Regions from separate parts of the Homo sapiens genome. Here region 1 is linked to region 2. Evidence: fine-mapped expression QTL. A gene starts in region 2. The other region holds a variant in brackets. All regions are shown on one strand. Distances are between the middles of the regions.

Region 1 (4,395 bases), 350 kb before region 2:
ATCTTCGAATAAAAACTAGACAGAAGCATCCTCAAACTTATTTGTGATGTGTGTCCTCAACTAACAGAGTTGAAACTTTGTTTTGATACAGCATTTTGGAAACACTCTTTTTGTAGAATCTGCAGGTGGATATTTGGATAGCTTAGAGGGATTCGTTGGAAAGGGGATATCTTCATATAGAATCTAGACAGAAGCATTCTCAGAAACTTATTTGTGATGTGTGTCCTCAACTAACAGAGTTGAACCTTGGTTTTGATACAGCATTTTGGAAACACTCCTTTTGAAGAATCTGCAGGTGGATATGTGGATAGCTTTGAAGATTTCGTTGGAAACGGGAATTTCTTCATATAAAATCAAACAGAAGCATTCTCAGAAACTTCTCAGTGATGTTTGCATTCAGTTCATGGAGTTGAACACTTCCTTTCATAGAGCCGGTTTGAAACACTCTTTCTGCACTACCTGGAAGAGGACATTTCGAGCGCTTTGAGTCCTATGGTGAAAAAGGAAATATCTTCTCATAGAAACCAGAAAGAAGCGTTCTCAGAAACTTCTTTGTGTTGTGTGTACTCATGTAACAGTGTTGAACCATCCTTTTGACAGAGCAGTTTTGAAACACTCTTTTTGTAGAATCTGCAAGTGGATATTTGGATAGCTTTGAGGATTTCGTTGGAAACGGGTTATCTTCATATTAAATCTAGACAGAAGCATTCTCAGGAACTTCTTTGTGATGTTTGCATTCAAGTCACAGAATTGAACATTCCCTTTCATAGAGCAGGTTTGAAACACTCTTTCTCTAGTATCTGGAAGTGGGCATTTCAAGCGCTTTCAGGCCTATGGAGAGAAAGGAAATACCTTCAAATAAAAACTAGACAGAAGCATTCTCAGAAACTTATTTGTGATGTGTGTCCTCAACTAACAGAGTTGAACCTTTGTTTTGATACAGCATTTTGGAAACACTCCTTTTGTAGAATCTGCAGGTGGATATTTGGATAGCTTTGAAGATTTCGTTGGAAACCGGAATATCTTCATATAAAATCAAGACAGAAGCATTCTCGGGAAACATCTCTGTGATGTTTGCATTCAACTCAGTAGAGTTGAACACTTCCTTTCATAGAGCAGGTTTGAAACACTCTTTCTGCACTACCTGGAAGCGGACATTTCGAGCGCTTTGAGGCCTATGGTGAAAAAGGAAATATCTTCTCATAAAAACCAGAAAGAAGCATTCTCAGAAACTTCTTTGTGTTGTGTGTACTCAAGTAACAGTGTTGAACCTTCCTTTTGACAGAGCAGTTTTGAAACACTCTTTTGGTAGAATCTGCAAGTGGATATTTGGATAGCTTTGAGGAATTCGTTGGAAACGGGTTATCTTCATATAAAATCCAGACAGGAGCATTCTCAGAAACTTCTTTGTGCTGTATGTCCTCAATTCACAGAGCTGAACCTTTGTTTGGATACAGCATTTTGGAGACATTCCTTTAGTAGAATCTGCAAGTTGATATTTAGATAGCTTTGAAGATTTCGTTGGAAACGGGAATATCTTCATAGAAAATCTAGACGGAAGCATTCTCAGAAACTGCTTTGTGATGTTTGCATTCAAGTCACAGAGTTGAATATTCCCTTTTATAGA[GT/G]AGGTTTGAAACACTCTTTCGGCACTACCTGGAAGTGGATATTTCGAGCTCTTTGAGGCCTATGGTTAAAAGGAAATATCTTCCCATAAAAACTAGACAGAAGCCGTCTCAGAAACTTGTTTGTGATGTGTGTATTCAACTAACAGAGCTGAACATTTCTGTTACAGAGCAGTTTTAAAACACTCTTTTTGTGGAATCTGAAAGTGGATAATTGGATAGCTTTGTGGATTTCGTTGGAAACGGGGTGACGTATAAAATCTAGAGAGAAGCATTCTCAGGAACTTCTTTCTGATGTTTGCATTCAAGTCACAGAATTGAACATTCCTTTTCATAGTGCAGGTTTGAAACACTCTTTCTGTAGTATCTGGAAGTGGACATTTCAAGCGCTTTCAGGCCTATAGGGAGAAAGGAAATACCTTCAAATTAAAAACTAGACAGAAGGATTCTCAGAAACTTATTTGTGATGTGTGTCGTAAACGAACACAGTTGAACCTTTGTTTTGATACAGGATTTTGGAAACACTCCTTTTGTAGAATCTGCAGGTGGATATTTGGATAGATTTTAAGATTTCGTTGGAAATGGGAATTTCTTCATAGAAACTCAAGACAGATGCATTCTCAGAAACTTCTCTGTGATGTTTGCATTCCACTCATAGAGTTGAAAACTTCCTTTCATAGAGCAGGTTTGAAACACTCTTTTTGTAATATTTGGAAGTGGACATTTGCAGCGCTTTGAGGCCTATGGTGAAAAAGGAAATATCTTCTCATAAAAACCAGAAACAAGCATTCTCAGAAACTTCTTTTTGATGTGTGTACTCAAGTAACAGAGTTGAACCTTCCTCTTGACACAGCAGTTTTGAAACAATCTTTTTGTAGAATCTGCAAGTGGATATTTGGATAGCTTTGAGGATTTCGTTGGAAACGGGATATCTTCATATAAAATCTAGACAGAAGCATTCTCAGAAACTTCTTTGTGCTGTATGTCCTCAATTAACAGAGTTGAACCATTGCCTGGATACAGCATTTTGGAAACATTCCTTGAGTAGAATCTGCAAGTTGATATTTAGATAGATTTGAAGATTTCGTTGGAAAAGGGAATATCTCCATATAAAATCTAGAGGGAAGCATTCTCAGAAACTGCTTTGTGATGTTTCCATTCAAGTCACAGAGTTGAATATTCCCTTTTATAGAGCACGTTTGAAACACTCTTTCTGCACTATCTGGAAGCGGACATTTCGAGCGCTTTGAGGCCTATGGTGAAAAAGGAAATATCTTCCCATAAAAACTAGACAGAAGCATTCTCAGAAACTTGTTTGTGATGTGTGTATTCAACTAACAGAGTTGAACTTTTGTTTTTACAGAGCCGTTTTAAAACACTCTTTTTGTGGAATCAGAAAGTGGATATTCGGATGGCTCTGAGGATTTCGTTGGAAGCGGGATTACGTATAAAATCTAGAGAGAAGCATTCTCAGGAACTACTTTGTGATGTTTGCATTGAAGTCACAGAATTGAACATTCACTTTGATAGAGCAGGTTTGAAACACTCATTCTGTAGTATCTGGAAGTGGACATTTCAAGCGCTTTCAGGCCTATGGGGAGAAAGGAAATATCTTCAAATTAAAACTAGACAGAAGCATCCTCAAACTTATTTGTGATGTGTGTCCTCAACTAACAGAGTTGAAACTTTGTTTTGATACAGCATTTTGGAAACACTCTTTTTGTAGAATCTGCAGGTGGATATTTGGATAGCTTAGAGGGATTCGTTGGAAAGGGGATATCTTCATATAGAATCTAGACAGAAGCATTCTCAGAAACTTATTTGTGATGTGTGTCCTCAACTAACAGAGTTGAACTTTGGTTTTGATACAGCATTTTGGAAACACTCCTTTTGTAGAATCTGCAGGTGGATATGTGGATAGCTCTGAAGATTTCGTTGGAAACGGGAATTTCTTCATAGAAAATCAAACAGAAGCATTCTCAGAAACTTCTCAGTGATGTTTGCATTCAGCTCATGGAGTTGTACACTTCCTTTCATAGAGCAGGTTTGAAACACTCTTTCTGCACTACCTGGAAGAGGACATTTCGAGCGCTTTGAGTCCTATGGTGAAAAAGGAAATATCTTCTCATAGAAACCAGAAAGAAGCATTCTCAGAAACTTCTTTGTGTTGTGTGTACTCATGTAACAGTGTTGAACCATCCTTTTGACAGAGCAGTTTTGAAACACTCTTTTTGTAGAATCTGCAAGTGGATATTTGGATAGCTTTGAGGATTTCGTTGGAAACGGGATGACATATAATATCTAGAGAGAAGCATTCTCAGGAACTTCTTTGTGATGTTTGCATTCAAGTCACAGAATTGAACATTCCCTTTCATAGAGCAGGTTTGAAACACTCTTTCTCTAGTATCTGGAAGTGGGCATTTCAAGCGCTTTCAGGCCTATGGAGAGAAAGGAAATACCTTCAAATAAAAACTAGACAGAAGCATTCTCAGAAACTTATTTGTGATGTGTGTCCTCAACTAACAGAGTTGAACCTTTGTTTTGATACAGCATTTTGGAAACACTCCTTTTGTAGAATCTGCAGGTGGATATTTGGATAGCTTTGAAGATTTCGTTGGAAACCGGAATATCTTCATATAAAATCAAGACAGAAGCATTCTCGGAAACATCTCTGTGATGTTTGCATTCAACTCAGTAGAGTTGAACACTTCCTTTCATAGAGCAGGTTTGAAACACTCTTTCTGCACTACCTGGAAGCGGACATTTCGAG
Region 2 (4,332 bases):
GGGCATCAGGGAAAGTTTCTAAGAAAAGCTGAAGGTTGAGTTAACTCTTGAAGGATGGACAGGAGTTAACCAGGCAAAAGAGCTAAGAAGGTCACTCTAGGCAGAGGAAGAAGCATGGAGACTTTGAGAGGCAACCATCTCTGGGAGAACTAATTTTGGTCACTTTATGTGGATGGTGAGAAGGATAGGTGTAGGGATGAAGCAAGAAATACAATGAGAGATGTGCTTAGGGGCCAGTAAGCAACATAAATACCATGACAAGAACAATGGACTTTATCCTGAAGGCAAAGGGGAACTACTGAAGAGTTAAAATAGGTTTCCTATACAATCAGATTTGCATTGTAGTAAAATCACTCCAAAAAGAGATGAACTGGAACTGAAGAGCCTAGAAGTGAAGATATCAACAGCAGGTTTCTCTAAGAGTCCCAATGAGGTACTGACTGAGGTTTGACTTTGAAGCTGAAGTCTGGGGAAAGGTGTTAAGAGGTAGAACTGTCAGGATCTCGTGATTGTTTGGATATGAGTGTGGCACAAAGGGGTCGAAGATGACTCCCAAATAGGACTGGCTATATAATTTGTGGGGCCCAGGGGGAAAAGAAAATGTGGGGCTCACTGTTTAAATCTCAAGCCCAGGACAGCAGAACATTAAACCAAGTGCAGGTCCTTCTCAGCTCCCTTAAAATGGCCTTGGTCCTAAGTTTCTGGCTAGGTTAAACAAGTGAATGGATGGTTGTAGCCTTTTTAATAGTAAGTATGACAGAGTCCAGTTTTGAACATTTTTGAGTTTGAGGTGCCTATGGAAAATTCAGTTAAGTTCAGGGCTGGAGACGTAATGCGTAAATTTGAAGTGGAGACTGAGTAACGGATCAGACTGCCCCACTTATGTGTAAAGCAAAAATAGAACCAGATGGAAAAACAATCATCTGAAACAGAAGCTGATAACTTAGGCGGGAAATGAGGAAAGCCAAGGCACAATTTAAATACCAACTCCAAGAAGTTTTGTCTCCTTTCAGTTTCACTCATTCCTCTATGTTTTATTTTACTGTTACAAATCTGCAGCCTGCCTATTGTCTTTAGCTGATTTTTTCTGCATGTATTTGGCTGTATGACTTTAAGCTCCTTGAAGAGAGATTTTACGTCTTTTATCTTCAGAATGAGCCCTCCAGTGACATATATCTAATAGGTCTCTAAAAAGTTAATTATCTAAGAAAATCGTTCCAAAGGTCAAAACTTGACTCATTTTTTTCAACAATGTTTTAGAATGAGACTTTTTAAAGAGAAACTACTATAATTGTTCAAAGGAAAAGTAAGTTAGGTAAGGGGGAAAGTTACTGAAAATTATCTGTATTACAATAAATCACCCTAGCGATTACGTGTATGTATATATTAACACACACACATATGCATGTACATGTATGCATACGTATAACTAGATTTTGGGGGGATGAGGAGCCTTTTAAACCATTCTAAGTTACAAGTTTACAATGCAGGTCAGGAAATCTTGGATAAATCATTTTTAAAAGTGAACAGGAGATAGTTTTAGACTGGTGACTAAATCTTCAAAAACCAAAGCGTGAGGGGAAATCTGGGATGTCTGCATATTGGAGATGGCAGAAACAAAAAACAAAGATGGCAAGCTGACACCGGGGCAACAGCTGACCCGTTTCTTGTAAGAGGAGCCTTCTCGCTGGGGCTGCGGTTATTTTTATCCAAATCTCTGCTGGCGGCTGAACGGGGTACGTCCCTGGCACGTCCCAGCGCAGGCTTCCAGGCTGGCTCGACCGCCTCCCAGGCTCTCCGGAAGGAGACCCCTCCTCACCCCCTCCGAGGATCAGCCAGGCCGGGCCGAGCCCGAGGCCGCCCCTGGCTCCTGGTCCCTAGCTTGTGCCAGCATCCTCGGCGGGGCACAGCTCCTCCCGCCCCGCCCCGCCCCGATCGGCCCCGCCGAACCCAGACCCTGCGGCCCGCGCCCCCCGCACCCCCGGCCAGGGCTCCCGCGGGCCCAGCCGGCAGGACGCGGCCTCCCCCGCTCCTCCAGCCCGCGGCCGCGGCGGTACTCACAGACCTGTTCTGCAGCCGCCGCCGCCGCTGCCGCCATCTTCCCGCGCCCGCCGCCGCCGAGCTCCCCGCCCGACTGTGCCCGCCCCTCCGCGACCGCACCCTGCGCGCCTGCGCTTGCGCCCTGGCGGGGACTGGGGGCACCCGCTGCTCACACCCTCCCCTCCCCAGCCCGCATCCCTGACGACCCGCATCCCAGCCCTGCGGGCTCAGGCTCTGCGGCGGCCCCTGCACCTAGGACCTTGGCCTGGGGCGCGTTGTATTGCACAGGGGCCAGAAGGGGCCTATGGGGATTCCGCTCCACCCCGGGCCGCCTGCAGATTCCTCAGAAAGGGCACCCTCAAAAATCGAGGACGCTTCTCCCCTTCCCCTTTGTTCCCCATCGCTGAAAGATCGGTGCCATCCGGAGCTGTGAGGCTCTCTTTGTTTCTCGGACCAAGGTCTCCTTGGCTAGGGTGGGAGGGGCCGATATCGAGACCACAAGTGGACGCGGACCGGCGTGGTGACTGCGTGGGCAGAAGTGAACGAGTGGTCACTTAGGTGGCTGGAGTCTTGAAGACTGAGAGTCCTCAAGGAGGACGTTGAATCCTTCGGGCTGCTTGACTTCGGAGGCCTATGAAGTCTGATGTTTTTATCCTGCGATACTGGGGATGGATTTTTCATTTAGTGTTGGAGATAGTGTTACCATGTATATCCTCGGGAACCTAATTGAACGGACATTTACTGAACACCGGGAAGCCACTCAAATGTACGAGTTACTTGAGTAGACATTCATTGTTCCCTGTTGTAGATATAATCCAATAATTATTTTAGCTGAAAAAAAATGCAGTGAAGTCAATAGCAACTGTTCCTCATGTAGCTGAATCACTTCTAATAAGCACCTTTGGGCCCTAGTACTGTCTAATTCAGTGGGAGTCAGTACCTAGCTGGTCATCAGTCTCTCTGCATTTCTTTTTTCCTAAATGCTGGAACCACTTGACTCATATCTCTAGACTCACTCCTCTCTGAGTCTGTGGGACAAACATGCATTTTAGGCAGGAAAATTCTAAGTTAAAGCCCAATGATGCAGGAGTCAGCAGTAAGGCTCTGTGTTAATATTCTGCCTGTGGTCTCATTGATCAATTTGCACAACTGGGCTTTTAACTGATTCTGAGTTCCTATCTTCTAGTCCTTAATTCCTAAGCTTTGCGTTTTTCTCTCTGCTGGGAAAGTTCTTCTTCCCTGGCACGCGCACTCTTATTCATCCTTCAAGAACTATTCTATTCAAACGTCATATTTTCTCTAAAGGCTTCAGAGGCTCCCACAGATCTGTTCCTTAACTGTGTGCCTAGCCTTTTCTAGCACTTCAGATTGCATTGTATTTTTATCTTGTCTACCTGCTGATTTCATTCAAAAGATGGTGTGTTCTATCTGGAAGGTAGGTGTCTTACTCATCGTTTAATCTCCAATGTCTAGCACAGTAATTAAACTTAATAGATATCTTAGAAATCTGCCCAGTATCCCAATTTCTAAGCCCTGACTTGATTTTGCCAACCTCCCTCCCACTTAGGTGGTGAGATACCTGGTAGCCAATTTTCCTGAAACCAAATGCTCCTTTGGCTATTTGAATATCACCTTCTCTTGGATTCTTTCCTCATCGCTGATGTCCATCTCTGACAGGACATCCCACTATTCTTAATGCCAATTTCTATTCTCTTTTAAAGAGATCCAATTCACTCACATGACCACATTTTAATGTGGGTTATTTTCAAATGTACTATTGTCAGCCTTTTTTCCCCTGAAATAATGACATTTAAAGTCAACTCTGTGCCTGGCAATGCCTCTTTTACAAATGAAGAAATCAAGGCTTGTAGAGGTTAAATGGCTGACCATCTTTTCAACTCCTAAAGAGCCAGTATTGAATCTAGGTCCATCTGACTAGTCTTTGCTCTTTCTACCATACATCACAGCCTTTAATTTTGCTCTTTCTTTTGACTGTTGCATGATATTAGCATTTGGAAGCACAAAACACAGGTCCCCAGGGCTGGAGTATGAGTCAGATTATGAAGACACTTACACCTTTGTTCACTTTGCAGTGGTTTGAATAGTGCCCTGCAAAAAGGCATATCCAAGTCCTAACCTCCAGTATCTGTGAACGTGGTGTTACTTTGAAACAGAGTCTTTGCAGATTGCTATAGAATGAATGTTTGTGTCTCCCCTGAATATTTCACATGTGGAAATCTTAGCCCCCAGTGTGATGATATTAGGAGGTAGGGCCTTTAGAAGCTGACTTAG

Alleles and levels. Alleles are on the strand shown, and positions count from the first base shown. SD is a standard deviation of normalised expression in the study named.
For the expression in fetal neocortex of the gene that starts at base 2,138 in region 2, allele GT in region 1 goes with a lower level than allele G (moderate effect, 0.63 SD a copy in Walker 2019).

Evidence for each region. PIP is the estimated chance that this variant, and not a neighbour inherited with it, causes the effect.
Region 1: its variant is the best candidate, but not a certain one, in a credible set for the expression of SGCB in fetal neocortex (Walker 2019, PIP 0.65).

What each region holds. Positions count from the first base shown.
Region 1 is chr4:51,681,675-51,686,069 of GRCh38, forward strand. No RefSeq gene overlaps it. Among named protein-coding and RNA genes, the nearest start is that of DCUN1D4, 160 kb to the right of the region's middle. The variant GT/G (reference allele first, on the strand shown) is at 1,628.
Region 2 is chr4:52,036,162-52,040,493 of GRCh38, forward strand. SGCB (sarcoglycan beta) reads right to left here and starts at 2,138. Exons shown (of 6, transcript NM_000232.5): 1 at 2,066-2,138. The coding sequence starts at 2,098. RefSeq lists an enhancer at 1,551-1,670 and a silencer at 1,911-2,350.